Homo sapiens: one gene and its partners. The protein of the gene in region 3 interacts with the protein of the main gene of each other region in a pairwise test. Each region holds a gene or a part of one and is shown on either strand. Other genes may lie near its edges. The genes, in order: SPDYC, ELOA, LZTS1 and TBC1D1.

Region 1 (7,651 bases), on a different chromosome or scaffold from region 3:
TTCACCCTGCAGAGCTTCAGTGCCCAGGGCGTGCCGGAGGCTTTGGGAAGACTGGGGAGAGGAAAGAGTGAGGCTCAGAGAAGAAACCTGCCAAGCTCACACGGGAGGGGCAGCACGTCGACCCCAGGCCCATGGCCCTCTCTCTCATATTGTTGGTCCTCACTCCTGCCTCCCAAGCTCCCACACCAGCCCCCAGCTCCTGTCCCATCCTGCACTCACTGCGGAGGGAGTAGGTGCCTGGTTCCAGTTGCATCTGGGGAGGCAAGACGATGAGAAAGTCCCCACCCCAGGCGTTTTTGACCCTTGAGAGATAATTTTGGGAGGGAGGGCGATGACATTCAGAGGTCAGAGAAGGGCACTTGGATGACACAGGCTTAAGCAAGTGGCTGCTGCAGTGCTGGGGCAAACCACAGGGGGAACAGTGGGGCGGCGAGAGGCCAGGGCCCCGGGGAAGGCGAACAGGGACCTGTGGACAGACCCTCTGAACCCCACCATGGTGGGGGCGCCGGTCCCGAGTCCAAGCCCAGTGGAATGGCTCCTTTGCCATGACCTGGGAGGAGCAGAGTGGACAGTAAATGGGGTGGGAACCCCAGCCTTCCCCACACCCCAGGTTGCCTCCCAGCCTCACCTCCTCACAGCACTGGCGGCTCACAACAGCCCGGAAACCCATCCGTGCCCAAAGCTTATCCCTCTGGTGCAGGAATTTCCCCACTCGTAAACACCAATCTTTTCCCAGGGCCCATGGAAAAATCTCACATTTGGGGCCCTCCAGGTCCTCCTCCATGTCGTTTGCAAGGTACCTAGCCACAGAGGCACAAGGTCAGGGAGCAGAGGCCACACATCTGCCCTGTCCCATCTGACACCTCCAGCAAATGCCTCCACTGCCTGCCCCCACCACTCACAGGGCCAAGAACAGGCTGCTGTGGGTATACTCGCTGAGCTTCAGGTGGGCGCGCTGGAAGTAGACCAGCACCATGGCCAGGAGATACTGCAGAGACAGATCGGGGTGGGGGGTTAGTTATTCTCTGAGGAGGAGGGGCTTGCACCCAGGTTCATTTGCACCCAGGGAGGTTTTGCTGCAGGGAAAGAAAGTCAGTAAAATGGTGGGAAGTGGTGTGCAAAGATGAGGGGGTAAGGATGGAAGGTGAGTGGCTCTCCCTACCAGACCAGGGCACTCAATTCCCACCAACTCAACCTGACCCTCAAGAGACCCCCAGCCTGTACTCCCTCACCTTATCTGAAATCTGGAAGCAGGGGTCTTTGGAGAGGAATTCCTGGACAAAACTGTCCTCTGAGGGTAGAGAAGACATGACAGGACGCAGGTTACCACCACCTCCATGGAGAAGAGTGGCATCAGAAGCTCCAAAGCCCAAGCCACCACTGAACCCTCTCTCTCTTTCTCTTTTTCTCCCTTTTTCTCTTTCTCTCTCTCTTTCTTAATATAAATAGAAATGGAGTCTCACTATGTTGACCAGGCTGGTCTTGAACTCCTGGCCTGAAGTGATACTCCCATTTCAGCCTCCCAAAATGTTGGGATTATAGGTATGACTCACGGTGCCTGGCCCTGAATCCAGTTTCTGAGAGGACACCCCTCCCACCTGCCTAAGCTGGGATACCTGAGAGGGAGAGGGTCAGAGGTCTCAGATGTCTGTACAGGCAGGTGAGACCCCACACTTCACATCTGCTTTCACACTTGACCTCACGGCCCCTCCCGTGCCAGCCCTCCAAACTCACCCAGAAGGCTGAGGAAGGCCTGGACCTCCTGGTGCTGGCGAAAACGGAGGAACCCATTGCCCCCACCTTGCCGGCTGCAGCCCCCCAGCTCTACCTGGGTGGTAACTACAGGGGAAGTGGTGGGGTCTTGGGAGTCACTCATCTCATAGGAGATGGAGATGGGGCAGGGTGACCTGTAGAGAAAGGAGGCTCAGGACTTAGCATGTACCCCCGTGATGCTCACAAATCAAGAGGGTGGTGACAGGGGCCAGGACGGTGGAGGGGTGGGTGCAGAGACTTGGGGGCTCAGAACAGAAGGCAGCCGGGATGCAACAAGAGTGGGGAGGCCAGAAAAGAAGCAAAGAGTTGCTATAGGTGAGGGTGTGGCACCCTCACCCTCCTCCTGGCACCCCAGGACAGGCCAGAGTAACAGCAGCAACAAGCACCGCTGAGGGCTTCCTAAGTGCCTGGGGCTGTGCTTAAGGGCCTTATCTTATTCCATCCTGGTAAGGAGGTAAGTTTAACTCAGACCGGTCGTCAAACGAGGAAACTGAAGCTGAGGCCTAACAGCCGGTTAAAAGTGAAGCCCTTGGTCTCCAAAACCCCAAGAGGTTTTTTGGTTTTTGTTTGTTTGTTTTGAGACACAGTCTCTCTCTGTCGCCCAGACTGGAGTGCAGTGGCGCGATCTCGGCTCACTGCAACCTCCGCCTCCCGGGTTCAACTGATTCTCCAGCCTGAGCCTCCCGAGTAGCTGGGATTACAGGCATGCGCCATGCCACCACGCCCGGCTAATTTTTTTTGTATTTTTTTGGTAGAGACAGGGTTTCACCGTGTTGGCCAGGCTGGTCTCACACTCCTGACCTCCCAAAGTGCTGGGATTGCAGGCGTGAGCCACTGCGCCTGGCCAAAAAAAAAGAAAAAAAAAACCCAAGAGTTTAACTGCTCCTCTAGGCCCCAACTCACAACCACCCCCGACCCCTCACCAAAGCAGAGTTGAAAGGGCCACTGATCCCTTACACCGAGGGGAAACTGAGGCCCTCAGGGAGGAATGAAATTAGAAAAATACCTGGATTTAGAGCAAGTTGATGGGGCCACTTCAAACATTTCAAGCTCCCGTCCTAAACCCACCCTCATCCCTGAGAGAGAGAAGCCAACCACGGGGCCGAGGAGAACGTGCGGTCGACCACCCCAGGGCCAATCTGGGCCCCTCCATCTAGGCGCCCGCAAGCAACCCAGCCTCCTCCTGCAGCGAGCCTTACCCGAGCTCAGGAATGGCCCAGAGCATAACACCAACGCCGCCGCGAGTGCGCTTATATAGCCTGAGGGCGGCCCTGCCCAAAGCAGCCCGTCCACCAATCAGGGCCTTCCTGGGGGGCGAGGCTTGGCCTTCACCGCCTGCCTCTCTGCCAGTGAGTCCAGTCGGCACCCAGCTGTGGCTCCCCAGGGTTTGAAAGCCTCTCCAAAGCTTCATCAACTACAAGAGGGGTGAAGGCAGGCCAGCTGGACCCCAGGGCCTAAGGCCCCATAGGACAGGCAGGGAGCTAGGATCCCTGTTCCCCTCTTGACAAATGCAGCGCCAAGGTGCTGAGCCGGGATATGAGACCCGGACTGCGAGGGCCTGGTGGGCGAGTTTTTTTTCATTGATTGTGCCTTGCTAGGGCAGGGTCTCTGGCTCTCTATGGGTGTCTCTGAATCTCCTGGCCTCCTTGAGTCTCTAGGTTTCACTGAGGCCCCCCGAGTCTCTCTTTTGTTTCTTATTTTATTTTTCCCCTCGTAACACAGAACAAGCTGCCTGGGTCTCAGTGGGCCTCTGAGTCTCTCAGTTTCTTGTTGCCTCTGGTGTCTGGATGTCTGTGGATCTCTGGGTCCTTTGTTTTCTCTCTGATCTCTGGTCTCTGGTGTATCTGCTGTTTCATGGTCTCCCCCAGGCCGCCTCCCAGGCTCCCTGAGGCCGTGAAGGCCTTTCTAGACCAGCTGGTCTGCATCAGGCCATCCTGTTTGTGTGTGTGCACGCATTTGAAGTCGGCCTCCCCTAGAAAGGAAGTAGTGAGTGGGGCAGCATCCATAGCCCGTTCACTAAACACCTACTGCTGCCTACTGAGGAGTCTGTGATGGAATCAGCTCACGTGTTCCTCACAGCAAGCCCGTGAAGTTGATGAGAATGATGAGAAGCCTCATTTTGTCAGCGAACAAACAACTAACACACAGAGTTTGGGTTGCTGACCGACAGGCTGAGTAACTTCCTGCCAGCCACTCAGCTGGTAAGTAGAGATAGAGTTCCAGCCTGGCTGCTGGGCCCACACGCTGGGTAGCCTGGCTGTGTGGTCTACAGCTGTTCCTGGACGCTGCCTGCACAGAGAAGGTGTTCCATGAAACCGAATGAATCTCCTAGACCAGCTGTGTTTTCAACTGTTCTCCTCCTCCCCCAGTAATTAAGGTTAGAGATCAGGAAGGTGTACCAAAAAGAAGCCTGGGAGTGGGCTAGTCACTTTAACTTTGGGAGGGCCTTCAGGCTGATTTCCTTCAGTGCCACCCCTGGAGATCTGACACCGATCTCCCACACTGGGGAGAATATTTGTTTTTACTTTTTTTTTTTTTTTTTTTGAGACGGAGTCTCGCTGTGTTGCCCAGGCCGGAGTGCAGTGGCCCAATCCCGGCTCCCTGCAACTTCCACCTCCAGGGCTCAAGCAATTCTCCTGCCTCAGCCTCCCGAGTAGCTGGGACTACAGGCATGTGCCGCCATGCCTGGCAATTTTTTTGTTTTGTTTTGTTCTCCTGACCTCATGATCCACCCGCCTTGGCCTCCCAGAATGCTGGGATTACAGGCATGAGCCACCATGCCCAGCCTTTCTCTTTCACTTTTCAGAATCCCATGATTCACTGGGCTCTTCAATCTGCCCAGATAATCTCCCCATCTCAAGATCCTTAACTTGGCTGGGAGAGGTGGCTTACCCCTGTAATCCCAGCATTGTGGGAGGCAGAGGAGAGCAGATCACCTGAGGTCAGGAGTTCAAGACCAGCCTGGTAAACATGGCAAAACCCCTCCTCTACTAAAAATACAAAAATTAGCGGGGCATGGTGGTGCATGCCTGTAATCCTAACTACTCGGGAGGCTGAGGCAGGAGAATTGCTTGAGCCCTGGGGGTGGAGGTTGCAGTGAGCTGAGATCATGCCATTGCACTCCAGTCTGGGCAACAGAGCAAGACTTGGTCTCAAAAAAAGATCCTTAACCATCTGCAAAGTCTTTTTTGCCATGTGAGATAACATATTCTCAGGTCTGGGAAGTGAAATGTAGCCATCTTTGGGAGTCCATTATTCTGCCTGCTACAATTATCACAGCAAAATTTATTCTATGCTAACTAATATACTATTTATAAAATTTATATTCATGTAAATGTATATATAATTTGTAAAATCATATATTAATATTGCATGCTATAAAGGATACACGTAAAAGGATATAAAAGAATACACATAAAACATAATAACATACTACCAGCTCAAAAAATATATATATGGCCAGGTCCATTGGCTCACGCCTATAATCTCAGCACTTTTTGGAGGCCGAGACAGGAGGATCATTTGAGTTCAGGAGTTAGAGACTAACCTGGGCAATACATCAAGGCCCCATCTCTACCAAAAATAAACTAGCCTGGCATGGTGGCACGTGACTGCAGTCCTATCTACTCAAGAGGCTGAGGTGGGAGGATCACTTGAGCCCAGGAGTTCAAGGCTGCAGTGAGCTATTATCATGCCATTCTACCCAGCCTGGGTGACACAGCAAGACCCTGTCTCTAAAACATGAATAAATAAATAAATAAGAATATTAAAAATTTCAAAATATAAAGATAGAAAAAATAATATGCAATTACTAAAAGAAAGCTGGGATAACTACACTAATATATTAAAACAACTTTAGGCCGGGCGCGGTGGCTTATGCCTGTAATCCCAGCACGTTGGGAGGCCGAGGCAGGTAGATCATTTGAGGTCAGGAGTTCAAGACCAGCCTGGCCAACATGGTGAAATTCCATTTCTACTAAAAATACAAAAATTAGGTGGGTGGTAGTGGCGAATGCCTGTAATCCCAGCTACTTGGGAGGCTGTGGCAGGAGAATCGCTTGAGCCTAGAAGGCAGAGGTTTTGGTGAGCCAAGATTGTACCACTGCACTCCAGCCTGGGTGACAGAGTGAGAACTTGTCTCAAAAAAAAAAAAAAACAAAAAACAAACAAAAAAACACAACTTTGGACAAAAAGCATAACTAGGGAGAAAGAGAATTTATGTAGTGATTTTAAAAATATACAGCCGGATGTGGTGGTGTGCACCTGTAGTGCTGGTCTGGGCAACATAGGGAGATCCTGTCGGTAAGAAGAGGAGGGGAAGGAGGGGAGGGAAAATAAAGGAAAGGAAAGAGGCAGGAAGAGAAAAATAAAAGGAAAAAGGAAGGAGAAGAAAGAAAGAAGGGAGGGAGGGAAGGAAGGAAGAAAAAAAAGTGTATAATTACCTAACCAGAATCCAGGTAAAGAAAAAAATATATAGTAATTTGTTTACTCCTAAAAATAAAGTCAATAAGCAAGAAACCGCATGTGTGTGTGTCTGTGTGTGTGTGTGTGTAAAATCAACAGAACCACACGGAAAAACAAATCACAATCATAATTGTAGATATGATGGCACATGCAAGGCAAAAAAGTTAGCAAAGCAGTAAAAGATATGAAGAATATGATGAAGAAATTTGACCTAGTGGACGAATAAGCTGGCACTGCACCCAACAAAGGCAGGAAAGCACGCACAGAACATCTTCCTAAAAATTAATCAAATGTACCCGGGCGAGGTGGCTCACGCCGATAATCCCAGCACTTTGGGAGGCCGAAGCAGGCGGATCACAAGGTCAGGAGTTAGCGACCAGTCTGGCCAACATAGTGAAACCCCGTTTCTACTGAAAATACAAAAAGCCGGGCGTGGTGGCGGGCGCCTGTAGTCCCAACTACTCAGGTGGGTGAGGCAAGAGAATGGCGTGAACCCGGGAGGCGGAGGTTGCAGTGAGCGGAGGTCGCGCCACTGCTCCAGCCTGGGTAACAGAGCAAGACTCCGTCTCAAAAAAAAAAAAAAAAAAAAAAAAAAAAAAAAAAAAGAAAAAGAAAAAGAAAAAGAAAGAAAGAAAATATTGTCTGTCAAAGTTGGAGGACACAACTAGTAATTCTTAGAGAGGAATTTATGACCTCAAACGCGCGTGTTAGAAAATAAGAAAAGCTGTCACGCTGATGAACTGAACTCCATCTTAAAAAGTCACAAGCCAGCCAGGGGGACTTCCGGGTCCTGAGGCCCAAGGGGCTGCCTGGGTCCCCATCCGCCAACTTTTGCTGTCCACACAGCCCCAGACAACAAGAAAGGAAAAATAAAACGCTGCCAAAACCACAGCGTCGGCATAACTTGAAAGCAGAGAAGGTCCAAACTTCAAGATAAATGTAAATAAAAAGAAAGCGACCATATCCCCGCACGCCGTCGTGCGCTGCGGCCTCTCCCAGGCACGAGGCTTTGTGCCAAGAAAAGCTGGGGAAGGAGGGGAGAAAGGAGTATCGATCCGGGCTGGGGTTGGTCGAGAGCAACTATCAGAAAGACTGCGACATTCTAAAATCTGAAAATACCAAGAAGACGTCCTGGGAAGTCAGAGCTCAGACCTCAGGGAAGGGGCTTACAAGTATGTGCGATAGGAAGGGGAGGTCGTTAAAGTCCACTGATTCCGCGGGAGGGGTAAAAAAAAAAAAAAAAGGGCTAAAATGGGCCAGAAGCATCCGTGGGCAATTGAGTAAGTGAAGTGGGAAAATGCAGAAGGGAGAAATTGAGGGTCCGAAGAGAACCAAGCAATGGGAGAACACAAAACCCTACCCACCCCCACACCGAAACAAACAAATAAAAAGCTTCTAAACCATCTGAACTTTG
Region 2 (7,022 bases), on a different chromosome or scaffold from region 3:
TGCCGTGTGTGTTTTTCCTTCATGGTGTTGAGGGGAAGGAAAGATAGGGAAGGGCAGTGGGGAGAAACCCTAAAATTTTCAATCAGAAACTGGAAATTGTAAAAGTGGGAGGTGGGGAGTTCTGTGCAAATCAATCTCCCAAGGTTCTGCGTCCTCTAGTGAGCCTCAAAGAAAAAAAAAAAAACAAAAAGGTGGGGACTCGCAAAAAGGATGAGGGAAAGGCTCCAGACCTACAGAGCACCTCCCTTAATAAATACCAGTTAGTAAGAAAGAGATGCACCTGCACAGGAATGCACAGCAACAGTGGGGAGGGCCTGAGGTGGAGTCCGCCGAGCACCCTGTCGCCCCACTGAGGCTCCCTTGGGGACAGGCGGTCTAGTGCTCATTCCTTGCCCTACGTGCAGCAGGTACTGTGCAGGCTCTGGAGATGCCCAGTCCTCTGTCTGGACCAGAGTCCACACAGAGCTGAGCTGGGGCAGGAGACTGGCTTTCACTAGGCTTTCATCTGATTTTAATAAGGACCTGGAAGATAAAAGGCTAAATGTGTGGTAGAGGACAAAAAACAAAAACAAACCTGGGGGATAATATAAATACAATCTGGGGGCAATATTTATTAATTAAAACTACGTCTTATAGTTTACAAAGATGCTAATGAACAACAAAAGTATAATTGACCTTTAAAATCCTCAGTGAGACAGAGGCTTCACATCTTCAGAATTCTAAAGTGTGCTCCAGGCAGGGAGGCGGGGCTGTGGCACGCAGGTTCCCAGGGGCAGCACCTGCAGACTGCAGGACTCGGAGACCAAAAGGATCCACAAAGCAAGACTCCAGTCTCCTGTAGAATTCCATTCCCCAACCCCCACTGTCCTTGTATTCCTGCCTCCCCAGATTCCATTTCCAAGGCAAGTCCTCAGTTTATCGTCGGGAGAATCTGTTCTTGAAAGCTTTAATTGTCTTGGCCATCATTGGGGCAATTTCTGTGAAAAGAGAAACAAGGCAGCTGTCTCAGATCTGTGGCGGCTTAGACACACCCCCAGTAGTTTACAGTCAAAGCCAGCTCTGCTATTCTTGGCTGTGCACCACCAGGCAGAGATACAAGTAGTAACTATCTCCTCTGTTCACAATGCAATAAAAGCAACAGCACAGAGCAGACACTTTCGGAGGACCTGCCAGGGGCATGACCACCACTCTCTCTAACCACCTGCACCAAGGCTCAGAGAGCCTGGCCAACTTGCCCATGGTTGTACAGTAAGGTACAGAATTACAATTCAATCTCTGTCAGACTTTCTTGTTTTTATTTTTGTAAGGAAAGAGTCTCACTCTGTCACCCTGGCTAGGGTGCATTGGCACAATCACAGCACACTGTAGCCTCTACCTCCTAGACTCCAGAGTAGCTGAGACTACAGGAGTGTGCCACCATGCCTGGCTAATTTTTTTTTATTTTCTGTAGAGTCAGGGTCTCACTATGTTGCTCAGGCTGGTCTCGATCTCCTGGGCTCAAGCACCCTCCTACCCCAGCCTCCCAAAGTGCTGGGATTACAGGTGTGTGTGAACCACTGTGCCCCGGCCCTTGCCAGACTCTAAAGGCCATACTCAGTCATAACTTAACTTTGCCTCACAAATAGCCAAACCAGTAAACAGCACGTCTACCCCCAATCTGTCCAGTGTAGAAACAGGTCTAAGGTGGCTATGCAAGTACTGCCTAAGGAAGGCCAGCCTGCCTCCTGAATGGTTCATCTGAGCATAGCTGTAGCTCAAGCCAGGACTCCCACCCTCCCATGGGCCCTGCAATTAATACAGAATAAGACTTAAGTTAGGACATCCCCTTAGGATACTGGGGATAGTCTATGGTAATAAAGTTAACAAAATACAAAATAGACGCAACTAGATATAAAGAATAAATATTTGGAAGACCCGGCCAGGCATGGTGGTTCACGCTGGTAATCCCAGGACTTTGGGAGGCTGAGGCGGGCGAATCACAAGGTCAGGGGTTCGAGACCAGCCTGGCCAACATGGTGAAACCCCGTGTCTACTAAAAATACAAAAAATTAGCTGGGCTTAGTGGCGGGCACCTGTAATCCCAGCTACTTGGGAGGCTGAGGCAGGAGAATCGCTTGAACCTGGGAGGTGGAGGTTGCAGTGAGCCGAGATCACGCCACTGTACTCCAGCCCAGGCGACAGAGTGAGACTCTGTCTCCAAAAAAAAAAAAAAAAAAAAAAAAAAAAAAATAAATAAATAAATTGGAAGACCCAATTAGATATAAAGAATAAATATTTGGAAGCTAGAGTTATAAGACTATAAAAAAACAGTAAGAGGGCCTGTCATTTAGCTGTTAATATTAGTAATTATGAACACTGTGGTATTGCCTAGAGAAGTCAGTTTATATTTAGGTGAAAAAAGAAGAGTGCCAAAATGGTCATTCACAATGATATTTATTTATTTATTTAGAGACAGTGTCTCACTCTGTCATCCAGGCTGGAGGGCAGTGGCACAATCCCAGCTCACTGCAACCTCTGCCTGCCAGGTTCAAGCAATTCTCCTGTCTCAGCCACCCGAGTACCTGAGATTATAGGCACATGCCACCATGGTGGGCTAATTTTTCTATTTTTAATAGAGACAGGGACCATGCCTGGCCAGATACTATTTTCTACTTTCACTTTTTTTTTTTTTTTTTTTCCAGAGACAGGGTCGGCCGGGCACAGTGGCTCACGCCTGTAATCCCAGCACTTGGGAGGCCAAGGCGGGCAGATCGCGAGGTCAGGAGATCGAGACCATCCTGGCTAACATGGTGAAACCCCGTCTCTACTAAAAAATAGAAAAAATTAGGTGGGCATGGTGGTGGGCACCTGTAGTTCTAGCTACTTGGGAGGCTGAGGCAGGAGAATGGCATGAACCTGGAAGGCAGAGCTTGCAGTGAGCTGAGATTGTGCCACTGCACTCCAGCCTGGGTGACAGAGCGAGACTCCATCTCAAAAAATCCTCCCACCTCAGTCTCCTGAGTAGGTGGGACTACAGGTGTGTACCACTATGCCCTATTTTTTAATTTTTTGTAGAGGGTCTCATTATGTTGTCCAGGCTGGTCTTGAACTCCTGGATTCAAGGGATCCTCCTGCCTCAGCCTGCCAAAGTGCTGGGATTACAGGCATGAGCCACTGCACCCAGACTCACTATAACTATTTAAGAGATATAATGCACTATGGACAAAGCAGGGGGAAGGAGGGACTGACATTCAGACCAGCTATGTGCAAGGCATCATGTACATGCAACATGCAGTCCACAAAATGTAATACAGTGAATAATGACATTGAGAGTTAAAAACTAGTGCTGAAATAATATTTGAGCAGGAACTCCAAGTTACTTACTCTTCACAGTGGGTTTCCTAGGATCATAGGAAACAGTGCTGCTGACCACTGGTGCCAAGTGGGCACTGCTGGTGCTTGGGCCATCATAGGCCGGCTCCTCAGGGCTGGGGTTAAAGCTGATGCTACTGGCGGAAGCATGGCTGCTTCCCATGGGGTACGGGGCTGGCTTGATCCTGCAACACAGGACAACACTGGTTAGGCATGAGCACAAGAAATCTGCCCTGAGCATGAACAGCCTGAAGCTGGCCTGTGTGAGGATGACTCACCCTGTTTGTGGCTTTGACCAATGGACCCTATCACCCTGGATTCTGGTGGTGGCTCAGAGATGTCTCCATTATCCTTTCAGAAAAAATGATAATCTCAACTAACTTTTCACTGTTTTGGTATAAATCTGTATTTTGAAAAGGCTAATGTGGCTTAGACAAAATAACAATCATTGCAGAAATGTGTTTTTTGTTTAGATGGGAAAAGGGAAAGCATAAGGGAATGTTTCCCATAAGCCAGGCTTTGCTCTCCATTTAATCTTGACTACCCTAGGGCAGGGGTAATTATCACCTTGCACTGCAGTCCAAGAAGCGGAGGCTGAGGGAGGTGAGGGAAGTGCTGAGCTGATGAGGTCTGCCTCCAGAGCCCACAGTCTGCACTGCCTCACTTTCACCAAAAGCAATTTGCTTCCTGCCGCTATGGCTACCTCTAAGGGTTGATAGCACACAAAAGCCAGGTAAGAACACAGATCTTACTTGATTTTCTCAGGGACAGCTGCTCCTCCCGTTCCAAACTTTTCCTGCCTCCTCCGGACGTCACGAGGTGGCTTGGCCACAGAGTTGACAAAGGCCATCTTTGCTTGTCGGCCTGTGGAATTATGGAGATGAACATCTGCCTTCTTGAGCAGAGATGCTACTGTTATTTAAATAATCCACGGGCTTTTTGAGTGCCCTGAAACCCCACTTGTAGGGTAGAATGGGCGGTGGCAGAAGAAATACCCACCCTGCTACCTGATGTAGGGGCAAGCAGTCCTACACCAGCCAAGCCCACCAACACCCTGCTATTGACCAGAACACTCATCCTGCCAGTTCTCCCCCAGCTCTCCCGTCTCTGTTACCTTTGGGCTTATTGGCATGTGCGAACTGGATATTCTTTGTTAGTACTCGTAGCCGCTGCTCTCGGGCGTCCTGAAGCCGCAGGTACATCTCTCGCCACGACTCATACTCTTCGGGTCTTTCTTCCTTAAAGTCTCGGTGACAATGAACTTTCCATAATTGATCTGTTTCTTCAATTAATACCTGAAACCAGAACCAGGACATCATTTGTGTACAAGCACTTTTCCATATTTTTTTTTTTTTTTTGAGACAGAGTCTTGCTCTGTCGTGTAGACTGCAGTGCAGTGGTGCAATTTTGGTTCACTGCAACCCTTGCCTCCTGGGTTCAAGCGATTCTCACGCCTCAGCCTCTCAAGTAGCCAGGACTACAGGTGCTTACCACCACGCCCAGCTATTTTATATTTTCAGTAGAGATGGGGTTTTGCCATGTTGTCCAGGCTGGTCTCGAACTCCTGACCTCAGATAATCCGCCCACCTTGGCCTCCCAGAGTGCTGGGATTACAGGCGTGTGTCACCATGCCCAGCCTCATATCTTTTTCTGATTATTTAATTACCTAGGAGTGACCAGTTTCCCAAAAATTTTTTGGTCTTCATCTTAGTAGTATGTTAAAATACCACAATTCTAGGAAAAAAATAACTCCCTAAATTTTAAAAATGCGAAGTGTGAGGCACTATGCTAGTTGCTTTTGGTGGCTGTGACAGAATATCACAAAAATCTGTGTAACATCAGTCTTTTCCTTTAGAAAATCAGCAAAGGGTAGAACTGCGATCAAGTCAAATCAGGTACTTCCCAACACTACGCTGAACTGTGATGGCAAAGGGGCAACCTAAGAAGGATGTTAAGTTATTGGCCAGGCGCGTTGGCTCATGCCTGTAATCCCAGCACTTCAGGAGGCCAAGAGTCTGAGAGTCCATCTCTCTAAAAAATAAAAATATTAGCCAGCTGTGGTGGTATGTGCCTGTAGTCCCAGCTACTTGGGAGGATCACTTAAGCCCAGGAGTTCAAGGATGCAGTAAGCCATGATTAGGCCTCTGTACTGCAGTCGAAGCAACAGAGGTAGACCCTATCTCCAAAAAAAAAAAAAAAGGTGTTAGGTCATAGAACTTTCAGAATTAAAGAGAGACAGCTGATGCAATCAAATGTGTATACCCTACATCCTAAGGAGGATTCTGGATAAATCTTGATGTTTCTTAAGAGACATCCAGCCAATCACCAGATGTCAGAGTGTCAACACAAAGTGCTTTCCCCGCCCTGGGTCCCAGCTACTCTGCTGCCAGAATTCTCCCTTTACCTTCATGACTAGGCAAGCTCAAGGGAGATGTTAAGTGTTTTTCTTCTCCCTTTGAATCCCACCCTGATCCTAGCCCAAGAGGCCCACTTAAGGTGCCAGGAGCAAGTGCTAATAACATGCTTGTTTAAAGGCCCAGTGGCAAACCAAATATATCCAGAACAATGCTCTGACCACTGATCTGCCCTTCAGCCACAGCGGAGTCACAGGGACAAAGCTATTTCTGGAGGTACAAGCCAGAAAACTGCCCTCTTCCCACCCAAACAGAATACTCACATGATTGTATTCCTCTATGCGATACAGCTGATCAGGTGTACACCTCTCCAAAACGGGTTCAAGAACAGAGTATGGGACTCCTCCCACTTCAAAGATTGCTGCAGAGAAACCAAAGGTGAAGACACTGAGTAGCAGCCAAGCCACCCAGTGATAAGGTCCAAGTGCTACAATGTGCTTGAGAGCTAGAGAGAAGCGTGTGACTTACAATCGATGTTGTTTTTAAGTACTCGGATGCATTGCTGGTGCAAGGTCATCATTTTAGGGAGATAGGCACACTTGGAACCAGAATACACCTGCATCTTGGAATTCATTCTGCGCCCAGTAAATCCAGCTTCTTCTTCTTCCTGGGGTGAAGAGAACGCTATAGGGCAAGAAAAACACAAAAGGCCCTAAGTGATCCAGTGAAAACTCTCCTTCTACCCCCTTCAGCCTCCTACTTCCCTTTCCCAATGGCAATCCACGCTACAGATTTTTGTAGATCCTTCCAGAGAATTTAAAAATAAGCTCCTGTAATCCCAGCACTTTAGGAGGCCAAGGCACATGAATCATCTGAGGTCAAGAGTTCGAGATCAGCCTGCCCAACATGCACCTGTAGTCCCAGCTACTCAGGAGGCTGAGGCAGAGGAATTGCTTGAACCTAGGAGGTGGAGGCTGCAGTGAGCCAAGATGGAGCTACTGCACTCCAGCCTGAGTAACACAGCAAGACTCTCAACAGCAACAACAAAAAAAAGCAAATGTATCTTATTCCTTTTAAGCCAATGAATCAATTAATAACATACTCACTACATACATTGCTTTTTTTCATTTGCCACATCTGAGAGATCATTCCATGTCAGTGCATAGACTTTCCACATTTTTTTTTTACTGTGGCATAGGATGCCACTGTGTAGATGAACCATGATTTATCTGTTAGTCTCCTGCTGATAGACCCTTATGTGGCTTCTACTTCTTTTGCTATGAAAATTAGACATTTTTTTCTTTCAGACAAAAATCC
Region 3 (7,291 bases):
TGGGCGCCTGTAGTCCCAGCTACTCGGGAGGCTGAGGCAGGAGAATGGCATGAACCCGGGAGGCGGAGCTTGCAGTGAGCCGAGATGGCACCACTGCACTCCAGTCTGGGCGACAGAGCGAGACTCCGTCTCAAAAAAAATAAAAAATAAATAAATAAATTTAAAGAAAAAAGAGATGGTCCTTCCAATTCAGAGACAAGTCTCCTGAAGCCCAGAGATAAGAGATTCAAGGTGGTCAGAGACCTACAGGTAAGGAATGAAAATTCTTGTTATAAAAGTTGCACATTCAAAGCAACTCCACGGGAACTGTTTTCTACCCTGGAAAAAGACAGGGATGGTAAGACATCTTCTAAGGTCATGGGACCATTGGCTCTGACTGCAGAAAAACTGCTCTCCCTGGACCTTTACTGGGGTCACTGGGAAATCAGGAGTGGCCTCAGTTGATTCCTTAAAGCTTTGCTCAGTTGTCTAGGCTCATATTTTTTCACCGGCTTTTGGAGATTATCCAACCTCACTTAAATATAGTCAGCATTTCTTTTCTCTTAACACAAGGCCCTGGATTTTGAGACTTGAAATAATATTAAAAAATTATTTGATATTTTGTATTTTTCATAACACCTTTGACTTTATTAATTCTTTTCATTTTGTATTGTTGCCAAAAGATAGATAGGGAAAATGTTATTAGGCTTCTTTCACTGATAGCAAACTAAACCTCCAAAGGGTTGTGAGAAGACTGCAGATTGGAAGAAGTAGGAATACACGTGGATTTTCTGAATTTGAGTCAATTTATCTCTCTGAAACATCATCTCGCCTCCCTCCCCTCATAGCACTCATTCTAGTATTTTTTGAGCGCTTGCTTTGTACCAATAATGTGCTGAGTTCTGTGGATTCAATGTTGACTAAGACAGACATGATCTTTGAACAAGAAACTTGCAGAAGAGATGAACAGACAAACAAGAAGCCAGGGAATTAATTAAATTGTGATAGGTGACAGTACCTTGAGGAAGGCAGAGTTGTCTGTAATCCAAACAAGCTGCTGGCTTAACTGGTCTATGGGTCTGGTCCAGTGTGGCCAATCTTAGGTCCTAGAGATGAAGCATGATGCTCTGTATCTCAGGTGATGAATACAGGAGGAGGGTAGGAGATTTTTACAAGAAATGTTTTGTGACCCAGCTTTCTAGACTCGACTCAGGCAAGGGAGAGCCTGAGGGATGCAGAGTTTCACATAAGACACCTCTCGGGAACCCAGACACTAAGGAAGGGCAGCGCCCCTTCACTAGACAAGGAAGAAAAGGAGCCACACTGAGAACCTACCGGTGGTGTTGGGGGTAGACACACCCAGCCATTGCATTACCATACCCAACTGCTGAATCAGGGAGCTAATTATGGCTTTGTGCTGCTGGAGACCACATTCCTGAGGCTTTCATGCACACATACGGAACCATAATACATACACACATGCTGTGCTGTCCATCACTGGTCTCCTTCTCCACTCTGCCTTCTCATTTCCAGCCCCACTCTCTATGCATTCTGTCTCTAAAGTATCCCTTCCACAGGGTGTTTCTGTTGTTCCATAGGGTATCCCATTTCCACCGCTCATACACAAACCAACACACTGCTCATACCCTTTGCCTGACTCAGTCATTCCAGGAAGGCTGCACATCATACCCAGCTTTCACCTAGAATGTCACTGACAAAGGTGTCAGTGCTGAAGGAGGGTCCTTAAGGAGTATCTTCTCATCCAAACCATCCACTTTCCAGATGAGGAAACTGAGGCCTCATCAGGGACTCCAAACCATCCACTTTCCAGATAGGAAACTGAGGTCTCATCAGGGACTCCAAACCATCCACTTTCCAGATGAGGAAACTGAGGCCTCATTAGGGACATGGCTTGTCCAAGAGCATATAGTCAGCAGTAGGGCCAGAACAAAAAGTGGGCTTCCAGAGTCCTTTGTCTCTTCCATGGAATCTCACCTCCGACGATGTGAAAATGAGTTTGAAGTCTGGAGCCCACCTCATACCTTAATCTACCTTCCAGGAGTCTGCTCTTTCCTTAAAGCGCTGGAATGTTTGATCGATATTAACTCATTCAGCTAAAATTCTTGAGATACTCTCACCAGCAAGCAAGAATACATGTTCTCTGTCAATAAATGCAACACAAAGAAGCATGGCGCTTTAGAAAAAGAAGACATTATTTTGCCCTGGACGATAAGAGAAGGTGTGAGTAAGGGTTCCATATTTTGTCTCAGATTTTGAGAGGTAGAGTTAGAAGAGCAGGAGAAAAGCTTTTCAGACTGAGGGGCAGGTTTATACAAAGGTGGGGAAAAGGAGGTGATGTTCAGGAAAAGGCTGAGTAGCCTTTGGGGTTGACACTTAGAAATTGTCGTATTGCTTGTAATTACTGCCACGTGTATGTACTTACCGCAAGGCAGTGGGTTTCATTTAATCATCAGAACAAACCTATACATGAGAAATTCATTCATTTAACAAATACATATTGAGTGCCTACTATGTTGCCTGGCAAGTTCTAGGTGTCGGGGATACATCTATGAATAAAACAGACCAAGTCCCTCAGCCACCAATAAAAGAGAACAAGTTCCTGCCTTCAGGGAATTTACACTGGGACTTGTTACCTCATTTCACAAATAAAAAAAGAAAGAAAGAAAAAGAAAAACTGAGAAAGAGGGAGGGGAAGGTAATGGCTCAAATAACAAGCAGCGAAGCCTGTCTGTGTTCTTAAACCCTCGCGGTGCCATCTTTCAGGAAGCCTAGATTCGAAGGTCAGAGTCTTCAGGGTCAACAACCGAAGGCAGTGAGATTCCCCTACAGGGTTTTGAGCAGGGGTGTGGCAGAAACCATATGGCTTGTTTTCCTTTGAGCTGTCCCCCCTGCCACCACAATTCTATTTAATTTTTTTGTATTTATTTATTTATTTATTTATTTTGAGACACGGTGTCACTCTGTCACCCAGGCTGGAGTGCAGTGGCACTATCTTGGCTCACTGCAACCTCTGCCTTCCAGGCTCAAGCAATTCCCAAGCCTCAGCCTCCCAAGTAGCTGGGATTACAGGCTCCTGCCACCACACCCAGCTAATTTTTGTATTTTTTTTTTTTTTTTTTTTTAGTAGAGACGGGGTTTCACCATGTTGGCCAGGCTGGTCTTCAACTCCTGACCTCAAGTGATCCACCAACCTCGGCCTCCCAAAGTGCTGAGATTACAGGCATGAGCCACCGCGTCCGGCCCCCATGCTATTTATAATCAGATCGGCTATGTCAATCCTAATCCATTACATCTATCCCCCACCCCCCAACACACACACACACACACACACACACACACACACACACACACAGGCTTCTTTCAAGATGAGGCTAACACTCCTTGGGCAGAGCTGCCATCTTCCCGCCAAGCCTGGTTTTAGAGGATTAGCCTCAGTGCACCCTCAAGCCCCCAAGCCTCATGCTGCACCTAGCACTCCGGTTAACTGACCCTTTGTCCTACAAAACCTTGTAAGCTTGAATCCTCTCCTGGCTCAGTTGCTAGAAGTTAAAAGTGAGGGTGGTTGAGAAAATGATAGTATTATAAGGGGACTGGGTGAGACTAATAGCTATAAACTTGAAACAGGCCTCTGCTGTCACCTGAAACTCAGCTCCCTCAGAGCTGGAAAAGTTTGCTTTTGACATGTTTTGGGAGTGGGAGTCCCGGTGCTCTGGACTCTAGCCTGTAATCCTGGTGTGGTTCGCAATGCCCCTCACTTGGGTGCTAGTCCAGTCCTTGAACAAAACACACGCCCTTTAGTGCGAGTCGGGAGCGGGAGAGACGGTATTAAGAAAAATAAACTGGCGATTAAGAGGAAGGGGTAATGAAGAAAGGGGAACATACACAGAACGGGAGAAGGAATGGATTTTAAACAAAACTGGAGTAAGAATTTCAGGTAATGAAAGGGAAAAAAGGATGCGACAAGAGCAAGACAGGAACAATCGGAGAAAGGGGGCCAGGCAAGAAAGGAAGACTGAGGGGGCAGGGTCGCCCAATGGGGCTGATGGAAGTGAGAGCAGAGAGACGGGACCCGGGACCCCGCGCAGGCCGCGGGCGCGAAGGAGCCGCGAGGTCGCGAGCAGCCCCAGCTGTCAGCCCGGAACAAAGGCCGCCGAGCGGCACAGACCAGGCTGCCGGCAGCTCGCTGCCAATCAGCGGCGCCGGCTCTGGCCCCGCCCCGGGCCGGCCCCGCCCCGCCCCGCCCCGCCCCGCCCCGCCCCGGCTCCGGGACCCGCGCAGAGGCCGGCGCGCCTGGAGCTGGCGGGTTGGCAGCGGCCGGGCGGGGAGGCCGAAAGTTTCTCTGCCCGCCTCGGCCAGTGAGTGGGAGCCGGGAGCTGCATCCCGCGCAGTGGGACCGGCCCGGCCCGCTCAGCAGCTCTGGAAAAAGAGAGACGGGAACACACCGGGAAACACTGGGAAAAAAAAAAAGTCTCAAGTGCGCCCGAGGCGCAGGGGGCAGGTAAGGTGCGGTGGCCGGGGATCTCCTCGCCCCTGGAGGGTCTGCTGCCCTGGCTGCGGGAAACCGCTTTCCCCTCGCCGGGCCGGACCGTCCGTGCGTCCGCGCGTCCGTCGGTCTTTGTCTGTCTGTGTCCGTGGCTGTCGAGGTGTCTTTGTCTCCGCGTGGAGCTGTCAGGGTCTCCCCTCTGCAGGGTGGGCGCCGCTTCTCCGGCCCGGCCCAGAGGAGGTGACTGTGCGTCTGTCCTCCTGTCTTTGTCTTCGTGTCTCCTGCAGACGGGGTTCGTCTATTCCCAGCACCGATGCTGATCCTGGCGGGGACGTCAGTGTTAGGTGACACTGGTGTCGGAGGTGAAGAAGTGGGAGGTGGGGACGCGAGGCCGCAGGAGCAGGGGCCGCAGGAAGAGGGTCCGGCGGTCGGTCCGGGCCGCTGAACTTCGCCGCCTGGAACTTTGCAGATGAGCTGTGTCCACACCGGTGGGGAGGACACCGGTGCGTTGCAGCCAGAGATTTGAAAGGTTTCCCTCAAGGAATAAGTCACACGGGCGGAGGTGGTTAGAGAGGAAGGTGGTAAATCGAAGTGTCTAAGTGGCTCCCTGGGGCTGCAGCTTCCTGGGGTCGGTCCTGGATGTGCAATTCAGGAATTTAGTCAAAGCACCATGCACACACAGACAGCCCCACACTACCTTCACTTCTTCCACCGCCACCCTAGGCAGCCAGACCTCACCCCTCCACCCTGCCACAGGCTTTGCTCTGGCTGGAGGGGCTTCAGAGGTCGCAGCTTGGCAGCAACAGGCATCCCCGAGACACCAAGGGCCAGGTGATGTCTCTTTTTCGTGCTCCAAGTGGAAAGGTTTGAACTGTGGAGCAAATGAGCCTTGTGCTCGCCCACGAGTATGTCAGGCCTGGGAAAGTGCTCCAGACTTGTTAGCTTCGCAGTCTTCAATTTCCCAGGAATAAGAAGTGCTTAGGGATCTGGCCTCCTAAAGTGTTTCCTGTCTCACTTATTCCCTCCACACCGTCCCGCTGCCATCAGCCCCTCTACTCTCTGGTCCCGGGCGCTGGGAAAGTACTGAGGAGGCACTGAGTTCTGGACCATGCCGGGCAGGCGCTGCTCCTAATAAGGATCCCACACTCTGCTGGAAGTGCAGCCTAATAGGAATGCTGGGAGCCCAGGAGCCCAGCCACAAAGAGATGAGCTATCTGCTTGGCAGTTCCTGCACCAAGACCCTGAGAAGAGTCTGCGGGTACCGGCAAGAGGGTGTTTGCAACCTGAGCTTTCTCTAAGTTCAAAAACAATTTTCTGCAGGCATCCAGAGGGAGAATGGAGGTGCCCGAAGAGTGTGCGCATATGGGTATTAGAGATAGCATGTACAGACGGGAAAGGTGTTTGTGTTTAAGAGTGGAGTGGAACATAGTCTGTGGGTAGAAGTCTGTGGGCAGAGAGCATGCAGGCTAATCAGGCGTGGCGTTACACCTTGTATTTATCCAGCGCTTTTCTTTGGAGGCTCTTTCTGCTCATCATAGACGTTATCTCATACGTTATCTCCTTTATCCTCACAACATAACTACCAGGTTGGTGCGGTGGGCTCTCTGTGCCTGCCAGTGAAGAAACGGAGGCGTCAGAAGGGAAAGGCTTTCCCTAAGGTCCCACAGCTAATAGGATGGAGCAACTGGGAGTCCTAGTAAGAGGTCTCAGCTGGGTGGATGTGAGTGTGGGGCGCTCACTCTGCTTAAGAAGAGAAGAAAACTAGTAGAAAAAGAACGGGCATCTCTGTGGGTGTCTATATGCAAGCAAAAGGGAGGGCGGGACATTTGATGTGCTGAAGATGGTTGTTAGTTAACATTTATAGCAGCGGCTGTGTGCTTCACGAGGTAAACCTGTCTCAGCAGTTCAGCTTGTGCATTTGTGTATCTGCAGGAGGTGCCCCCAGCTGTGTGTGCCTGGGTCGATGTGGGGCAGGGGTGCTGTCATAGAAGGAGTGCTGCTGCGTGGGGTGCCCTGGGGAAAGCCAATGCTTTGGGAGTGTGTGAGGGAAAGATGTGCCTTTCAGTTTTGAGAAGCCGTGGGTCAGCGTGTATAGCAAAGCTATACATGGGCTCCAGACGTATATAAATGGCTTTCTAATCCTGAAAACTTATTTATATGCCTTTGCGCTTATTCAACGTTCATTTCATAAATATTCATTGGGCGCCTACCAAATGCAAGGCTCTGAGCTGTGCAGCGAGGCTAGGAAGATGAATAATGTAATGATGACAGACCTATGGGTAAGCACCTTATAGACCAGTGTAATGGATAATACCGTAACACTTAATGCCAGCCACTAAATCCACTGTGTGCCTGGAACTTTTTATTCATTATCTCATTTAATTTTCACTGCAGCCCTGCGGGGTATGTATAATTATTAGATGAGGAGAGTTAAGTAATTTAGCCAGGCTACAAAACCGAGGGGCAGGGATTTGAGATCAGCTTAGTAAGGTTCTGGACCCTGGCTCTGTCCATGTTATTCTGCTACCTTTGAACATAGAAACACTGTTTCTTCTGCATGGAATATTCCTGCCTGGTCTCTCTACCTTCTCCACTTAACTGGCTCCCACTTTTTTTTTTTTTTTTTTTTTTTTTGAGACGGAGTCTTGCTCTGTCGCCCAGGCTGGAGTGCAGTGGTGCGATCTTGGCTCACCGCAACCTCCACCTCCTGGGTTCAAGCAGTTCTCCTGCCTCACCCTCACAAGTAGCTGGGACTATAGGCGCCTGCCACCACGCCTGGCTAATCTTTTATATTTTTAGTAGAGATGG
Region 4 (7,022 bases), on a different chromosome or scaffold from region 3:
CCTTTTTTTTTTTTTGAGACAGAGTCTCGCTCTGTTGCCCGGGCTGGAGTGCAGTGGCACGATCGTGGCTCACTGCAACCTCCACCCCCTGGGTTCAAGCAATTCTCCTGCCTCAGCCTTCCAAGTAGCTGGGATTACAGGCATGCACCACCACACCTGGCTAATTTTTGTATTTTTAGTAGAGATGGGGTTTCACCATGTTGGCCAGGCTGGTCTCGAACTCCTGGCCTCAAGTGATCTGCCCACCTTGGCCTCCCAAAGTGCTGGGATTATAGGCATGAGCCACAGTGCCCAGCCCTTTTCTGTTTTCAACAACCACGTTTGATGTATCCTAACGCCTTCTTGTCCTATTGGATGACAAAACCCTTTTGTTCAAAGCTGAGTTGTCTGTGGGATCTCAAGCCCTATTCTTTACTCACTTGCTCCCTGGATCTTCAGTCTCTCCTGTATCCAGCTCCCTGCCCCTGCCCCACTCCCCTAGCATATGGACAGATGCTAAGGTGAAACTCCATGAAGGCAGGCGTTGCATCTGTCTGATTCACTGCTATCTCCCTCGTGTCTGCCATAGTGCCTGACTCAAAGTAGGGACTCAATACGTATTTTAAAAGAATAACTGAGGGGCTCAATAAGTATTTTAAAAGAATAACTGAGGTCTCTCCAATCGAAAAAAAAAAAAAAAGATATTTCCTTTGATTTCAAACTTCCCTTGGCCATGGCTCTTTCTCTTCCTTCCCTCCAAGGTAAGGTCTACACTTACTGTCTCCACTTCCTATTGACCATCCATTCCTGGTTTGTAAGGCCTGGTTTGCCCTAGGGATCCACTGAAATTCTGTTAAAGTTGCCGAGGTCCTCAAGGTTGTAAAATTTAAAGGAGGCTATTTAGCCCCTGACTGCCTTGTTTGCTCTGACGAATTTCTCAATCTTGGCCACACCTTCCTTACTTTTTTTTTTTTTTCTTTTTTTTTTGAGACGGCTCCTCGCTCTGTCGCCCAGGCTGGAGTGCAGTGGCGCGATCTCGGCTCACTGCAAGCTCCGCCTCCCGGGTTCGCGCCATTCTCCCGCGTCAGCCTCCCGAGTAGCTGGGACTACAGGCGCCTGCCACCGCGCCCGGCTAATTCTTTTGTATCTTTAGTACAGACGGGGTTTCACCGTGTTAGCCAGGATGGTCTCGATCTCCTGACCTCGTGTTCCGCCCGCCTCGGCCTCCCAAAGTGCTGGGATTACAGGCTTGAGCCACCGCGCCCGGCCACACCTTCCTTCTTGAATCTCTTCTGGTTCTTATCTTACCTTTCTGGTTGTTTCTTTCCACATACTTCAAAGGCTTTTCTTCCTGTGTTTGACTTCATCCTCTCCCCTCATTTCACCTGCTGTTTTGGGCAATCTCACCTAATCTTTTGGTGTCAAGCACCACATTCTGGTGATCCTGCTGCTGATGACAGCAGCTGACTTCTATTGAGTACCACGCACTTTGCCTATGTTGTCTCATTTAACCTTTGTAACATTTATCCGCTAGAGCCCACTATGATGAACTAGGAAACTGAAGCCCGGAGAGCTTCAGTCACTTATCACAGGAGATGGGGGGCAATTTGCACTTGAGTCTAAATCCCATCCCCTTGACTGCTGCACAAGAATGCATCTACCACATACACCCTAATGGTGCCCAAGTGTTCTGCTCCCACGGAAGCCTCCTTCCTGAGTTCCAGATCCATATAGGCCATTAAATATTTCTATCTGGATAGCCTATAGGCTCCTAGGCCTGAATTTAGTTATTTTAAAGCTAACTCGGTCTCATCTCCCTCCTTCCCAGAATTTCTTTTCCCTCCTATGTGCTGTATCTAGGTGAATAGCATCACTACTCACTGAATGGCCAAGGGGTCATTCAGATCCCTTCTTCATCCTATTACTACCTCTAACTGACTTCACCAACTACTCTTTCTTTTTCGTCCTAGAGAAAAGGTGCCCCATCCTTCAATCCACCCATCGCATATTTCCTGGAGTAACTTAATCAACACAAAATTTATCATATCACACCCCTGCTAAAAATTCTCTAATAATTCCCCCATACAATCTGAAGTCTTCTACCTGGCATATAAGGTCTCTCAGGAATCTGGCTGTGTCTATATCTCCAACTTTATATTCTCCCCTAAAATGCCCTCCTTGGTGCACCTTTTAAAGGCTCTGAAGATAGAGAACTAGTTATGGTTCCCCGTTTCTCATGCCTCTGAGCCATGGTGCATACGGTTCCTCTCTCCTCAGAATATAATCCCTGCCACAAACTGCAAAGGGTCTGAGATTTTACCTTACTTGCAAACTAACACGTTAGCCCGCCACAGTTATCCTGCTGGTAGAAAACATGAGACTCCTGGGTTGGAGACGAAGGACAATTTATTACTCAGGGCAGTCACAGTAGCCAGACAGTCAGCATTTCTCTTGGTTCCCTGACCCCCAATTCCCACAGGTCAGGTGACATCTGTATCATGGTGGGTTACAGGAAAGGCAGCTGAGTTTAGGGAGCCGGAATATCTTATAGTGGGAAGTACAGGAAGCAAGCGTGTCTGCCCTTTGCTCCAGAGGAAGACTCTATTTCTATCTTCCATGACTGTTTGCTGTAGAAACATGATGGAAAAGGTAGTTTGGAACACAGGCACTCAATGCCCTGCTTACAAGGTGTGTAGAAACAGGAAGGACCCATGGAGAGTCATCTACCAACAGTCTCCATCCTTGTCTTCTATTTCCAACTAGTACTTAAGTCCTACCTCAAGCAACTACCACCTCTTTTTTCCAAGGTGTTTTAGGGCATGTATCAGCAGGCTTTTCTGCACTTTCTACCCAATCACCATATTTAAGAGTTTGAATAGGTGTCCCTCAAGAAGACCGTAAGCTTCTTGAATTCTTAAGGTTTGGGGTTTCCAAAATCAGTATTCAAATTTTAAACCTTTTCTGAACAGGAACTGAAGTCTATTCTTTTTACTCTGTGTTTTTCTGTATAATATATATGCACAATGCTAAGAGCAAATTTTTATAATATAATTTGAACATAACTCATAGCTAATTTTTTATTTCAAATGTTCAAGAAATAAAAAATAAAGCAATACTTTATTTACAGCTCAGGCATTTCATGAAAGTAAAGTCCCTGACTGTCCTTTAAAGCACAGCTTCTCCTAATAATGAAAACGGACTTGAAGTTCACATAATCCCATAAATAATGATCTCTCTTTCTCTTTATTCTCTCTCTCACAGGTGAAAATGACATTAAATGTCTGGATCGACTTCTACTCCTGTAACAGAATCTGTTTCATGTTCTAACTGTTGACAGCTGCTAATCCCAAAACATGTTTAAAGAAGTACTAGAATTATTACAAAGGATAAATCTGAGCTCTATCAATTATTTTAGATGATGCAGTTATTAATATAGTGGCAACAAGCATAGCAGAATTACTTTCAATTTCCTTCTTAGAGTATAGATGTACACAGTACCAAAAATTCAGTCATTTAAATCAGTTGATAATAATCAGTCATCAAATGAGTCCTGCCATTTCATTGACAAAACATTTCAATGCCTGAAGTTTTTGTTTTTCAACCAGCTGTAGCATGTTCTTAGCTTCTCTGTAAAAAGTAGATTAGACCTTAGCACTGTTCATAAACTATCAAATAATAAGTTCTACATCCAACATAGCCATAATTATTTATAAGCAATTCAGATTCTGCTAATATAAGATTCAGGGTAACTTAGATCAGGTGAATATCTACATTACTTGTCAATAAAAACTTCCATAACAGAGATAAACTATGCAAATAATATTAGGGATTTGGTTTAAAAGTAACTGCAATTTTTGCCATTAAAAGGAATGGCAAAAACTGCAATTATTTCTGCACCAGTTTAATACTAACAAACCATTTGATTATTTTTTAAAGCCATCTCAATCCATGTTATTTGCACTCAACCTTTGACCATTCTTTAAGCCCCAAATAGAACCTCATATTCCAAGGAGAACTCTTATGTTTCATACCCTCAGCAAGAAATACTGTGATTCCAATAAGCTTCTAGTAACGTTCTTGTTAGTAGAGTTGTCTGTGTACACGCCCTATCCCTCTACAGCAAACCTGTGTATTCTGCACAACTCCCACCTAGCACAGTCTTTAAACATAGTAGCTACCCAAGACACAAAGATGTCCTTTATTAGAACAGTTTCAATAATCTTGTTAATGTGTCCTGCTATGCTACATATCTCTGGCAGCATACACTTAGAATCATAAAATTTTAAAGCTAACAAGCTCCTTTTAAGCCATTTAGAAATTTCCCTAATATTTGAAATGAGGCAACTAGATTCTGGAAAAGTTAAGTGGCTTGTCCAAATTTAGTGACAGAATTGGGACAATCCAAGTCCCTGACTCCCATCCAAGTGCTGCAGAGAACCCCAACTTCCTCATGAAAACACTTTCAAGTGTGAAGTTGAAAAAGCAAGTTACTCAGCTTCTCCAAATATTGTTTGTTCTTATAAGAGAATGGAACAAGATCATCCCCAAGTTTTCTTCCATCTCTAAAATCTGGTAAATCTTATTTTCATAATGTATAATACCAAATGTCCCCAACATTGTGTGGGGATGGAAAGCTGCTCCCTTCTTCCCTTAAAGAACAAAAATGTGGGGGAGGTACATGAAGAAAGGATGGGAATTATTGATCAGGAAGTGAGAGAAGCAAGGGTAGGTATTAGTAAGCTGCTTATTGGGAACCCCCTTTGTTCCCAGCCCCCTCCACTCCTTCACAGCAAACTACAGAGAGCAGGATGGGGACTTTACAGTAACTGACAGTACAACAGCCTCTGCAGCTTCAGCCCTCACCTCCTCAGAATGCTGGTGGGAGTGGGTAGGGAGAGAAGAAAGGATGAATGGAGGGGTGCTAGTGGCCTCTAGCTCTAGGTCAGATTAGGAACCGGCCAATATTGATTGGCTGTTGGGGACCCCAGAATGGACAGGAAGTCCCCAGGCAGCTACTCATATTGCTCTGTGAATCAATGGTTTAATTTCTCTGTTCTTTACGCCAGATGGAGTGAGCATGCACCTGAACAGAATTATACTGCAACCTGAAGTACTCTAATCCCATGCAGTAGGCTCACTGACTTGGCTACACTCTTCATCCACTTCCTCCACAGGATTCCACCCCAACGGGAGCAGTGTGTTCCTCACCCAGGAATCCCACAGGGAGCAACAACCCTTGGAGTAGAGGCTGTTTCACCATTGCATGGAGCTCCTGAAACCAGTGGTTCTAAATGTTTTCATCATCAAGGATGCTTTAGTACTGGGGTGTGCCTTTCTAATTTGACATGTAAAGTAATGATGCTTTTGAATGACTTCTTTCTCATATAAATTATTATTATTATTTGAGACAGAATCTCACTCTGTCACCCAGGCTGTAGTGCAGTGGCGTGATCTCAGCTCACTGCATCCTCCGCCCCCTGGGTTCAAACAATTCTTCTGCCTCAGCCTCCCCAGAAGCTGGGATTACAGGTGTGTGCTACCATGCCCGGCTGATCTTTGTATTTTTGGTAGAGATGAGATTTCGTCATGTTTGCCAGGCTGGTCTCCAACTCCTGACCTCAAGTGATCTGCCAGCCTCGGCCTCCCAAAGTGCTGGGATTACAGGCACGAGTCATATAAATTAGAGCCAACTCAAGGCTAGTCCTTTAGAATGGCACTGTCACTTCTTATACTCTTCATTGCACAGGAAAAAGGGTGGGAAATGGGCGAGTGTCCTAGCTGGCCCTCAGAGATTATGTATAACCCTCCTACCTGCAGTGTTCCTTTAAGTTATTCTGCTAAAAGTAAAAAGAATAGTTACCAACACATTATCATAGTGTGTTTATTAACTGATTTAACTTACAAAACGTTGGACAATAAAGGAATATTATCATTGAATAGTGGCACAGAAAAGTGAGGTCACCTGCCCAAGGCCATACTATAAGAAGTGGCAGAATCGGGATTTGAACCCAGGCCCTTTGGCTCCAGAGTTTGCTTGCTCTTAACCACTTTGCTAGAGCAATATCTGTTGACCACCTACCACTTCATGGACATTTTACATTCATGATCTTCTGTACGTTCACAAAGCTGAGAAGTAGGTTTTGTCATGCTCATTTTACCAAAGGGTTCCCTCACTAATAAATTGTGAAGGTGGCATTTGAATCTATATCTGTCTTATCTACAAACTTCTGTTGTTTCTCACAGATGATATCCAAAGATCCCATAGATCTTTAGATGGGAATAACCCTCAAATATCTTTCTAGTGGATTAGCTGGGTTGGTCTATCTAAATTTTGCTTGGCCTCAGCAATCCAAACCTAACATCAAAATTATACTCTAAAAGTATAAAATAAATAAACATAATAATAGCAATAAATAATATTGAGTGCTCACTGTGTACCAGGCACTGTTCTAAGCACTTTGCATGTATAAATTCACTAATTCTGGCAACAAACCTATAGGGCTTACCTAATTCAGAGGTTTAGATTTGCTGATTATATAAAATGTGCTGATAAATACACGCATTGTCTTTTGAAGAGAAAAATAGCTGTTGCTCATCTCAAAGGAGACAGGCACACTCAAAATTAAATGCCTCTTTGTTGGTTCTAAAATGTATTTCCTACATTCTGCACAGCTTCATAAAAACCTACATATCAAGAGTTTTTCAGTTGGCCCAAATATGACACATCTTTTTCTAAACATCTGAAATCTGAAAAGGGACACATTGCCCCTGCATCTAAGACCTCATCAAATGGAACTTTTGGCTTAGAAATGTCAAAAACTGGTCGGGCGCCGTGGCTCACACCTGTAATCCCAGCACTTTGGGAGGCCAAGGCGGGTGGATCACAAGGTCGGGAGTTCAAGACCAGCCTGGCCAAGATGGTGAAACCTCGCCTCTACTAAAAACACAAAATTTAGCCGGCCGTGGTAGAGCACGCCTGTAGTCCCAGCTACTTGGGAGGCTGAGGCAGGAGAATCACTTGAACCCAGGAGGCGGAGGTTGCA

The links.
Region 1: the proteins of LZTS1 (region 3) and SPDYC interact in binary tests that used the Homo sapiens proteins (3 or more experiments, as listed by UniProt).
Region 2: the proteins of LZTS1 (region 3) and ELOA interact in binary tests that used the Homo sapiens proteins (3 or more experiments, as listed by UniProt).
Region 4: the proteins of LZTS1 (region 3) and TBC1D1 interact in binary tests that used the Homo sapiens proteins (3 or more experiments, as listed by UniProt).

Annotation. Positions count from the first base shown.
Region 1 is NC_000011.10:65,165,583-65,173,233, reverse strand, and holds the start of SPDYC (speedy protein C), read right to left. Parts: upstream 3,002-7,651; 5' UTR 2,973-3,001; intron 1,908-2,972; 5' UTR 1,877-1,907; coding exon 1,735-1,876; intron 1,292-1,734; coding exon 1,233-1,291; intron 989-1,232; coding exon 903-988; intron 801-902; coding exon 629-800; intron 551-628; coding exon 220-550; intron 52-219; coding exon 17-51; 3' UTR 1-16. UniProt on the Homo sapiens protein: Promotes progression through the cell cycle via binding and activation of CDK1 and CDK2. Involved in the spindle-assembly checkpoint. Required for recruitment of MAD2L1, BUBR1 and BUB1 to kinetochores.
Region 2 is NC_000001.11:23,753,467-23,760,488, reverse strand, and holds part of ELOA (elongin-A), read right to left. Parts: intron 6,390-7,022; coding exon 6,234-6,389; intron 6,127-6,233; coding exon 6,029-6,126; intron 4,647-6,028; coding exon 4,466-4,646; intron 4,216-4,465; coding exon 4,104-4,215; intron 3,537-4,103; coding exon 3,364-3,536; intron 978-3,363; coding exon 916-977; 3' UTR 1-915. UniProt on the Homo sapiens protein: SIII, also known as elongin, is a general transcription elongation factor that increases the RNA polymerase II transcription elongation past template-encoded arresting sites.
Region 3 is NC_000008.11:20,300,947-20,308,237, reverse strand, and holds the start of LZTS1 (leucine zipper putative tumor suppressor 1), read left to right. Parts: upstream 1-4,274; 5' UTR 4,275-4,498; intron 4,499-7,291. UniProt on the Homo sapiens protein: Involved in the regulation of cell growth. May stabilize the active CDC2-cyclin B1 complex and thereby contribute to the regulation of the cell cycle and the prevention of uncontrolled cell proliferation. May act as a tumor suppressor.
Region 4 is NC_000004.12:37,894,065-37,901,086, reverse strand, and holds part of TBC1D1 (TBC1 domain family member 1), read right to left. Parts: intron 1-7,022. UniProt on the Homo sapiens protein: May act as a GTPase-activating protein for Rab family protein(s). May play a role in the cell cycle and differentiation of various tissues.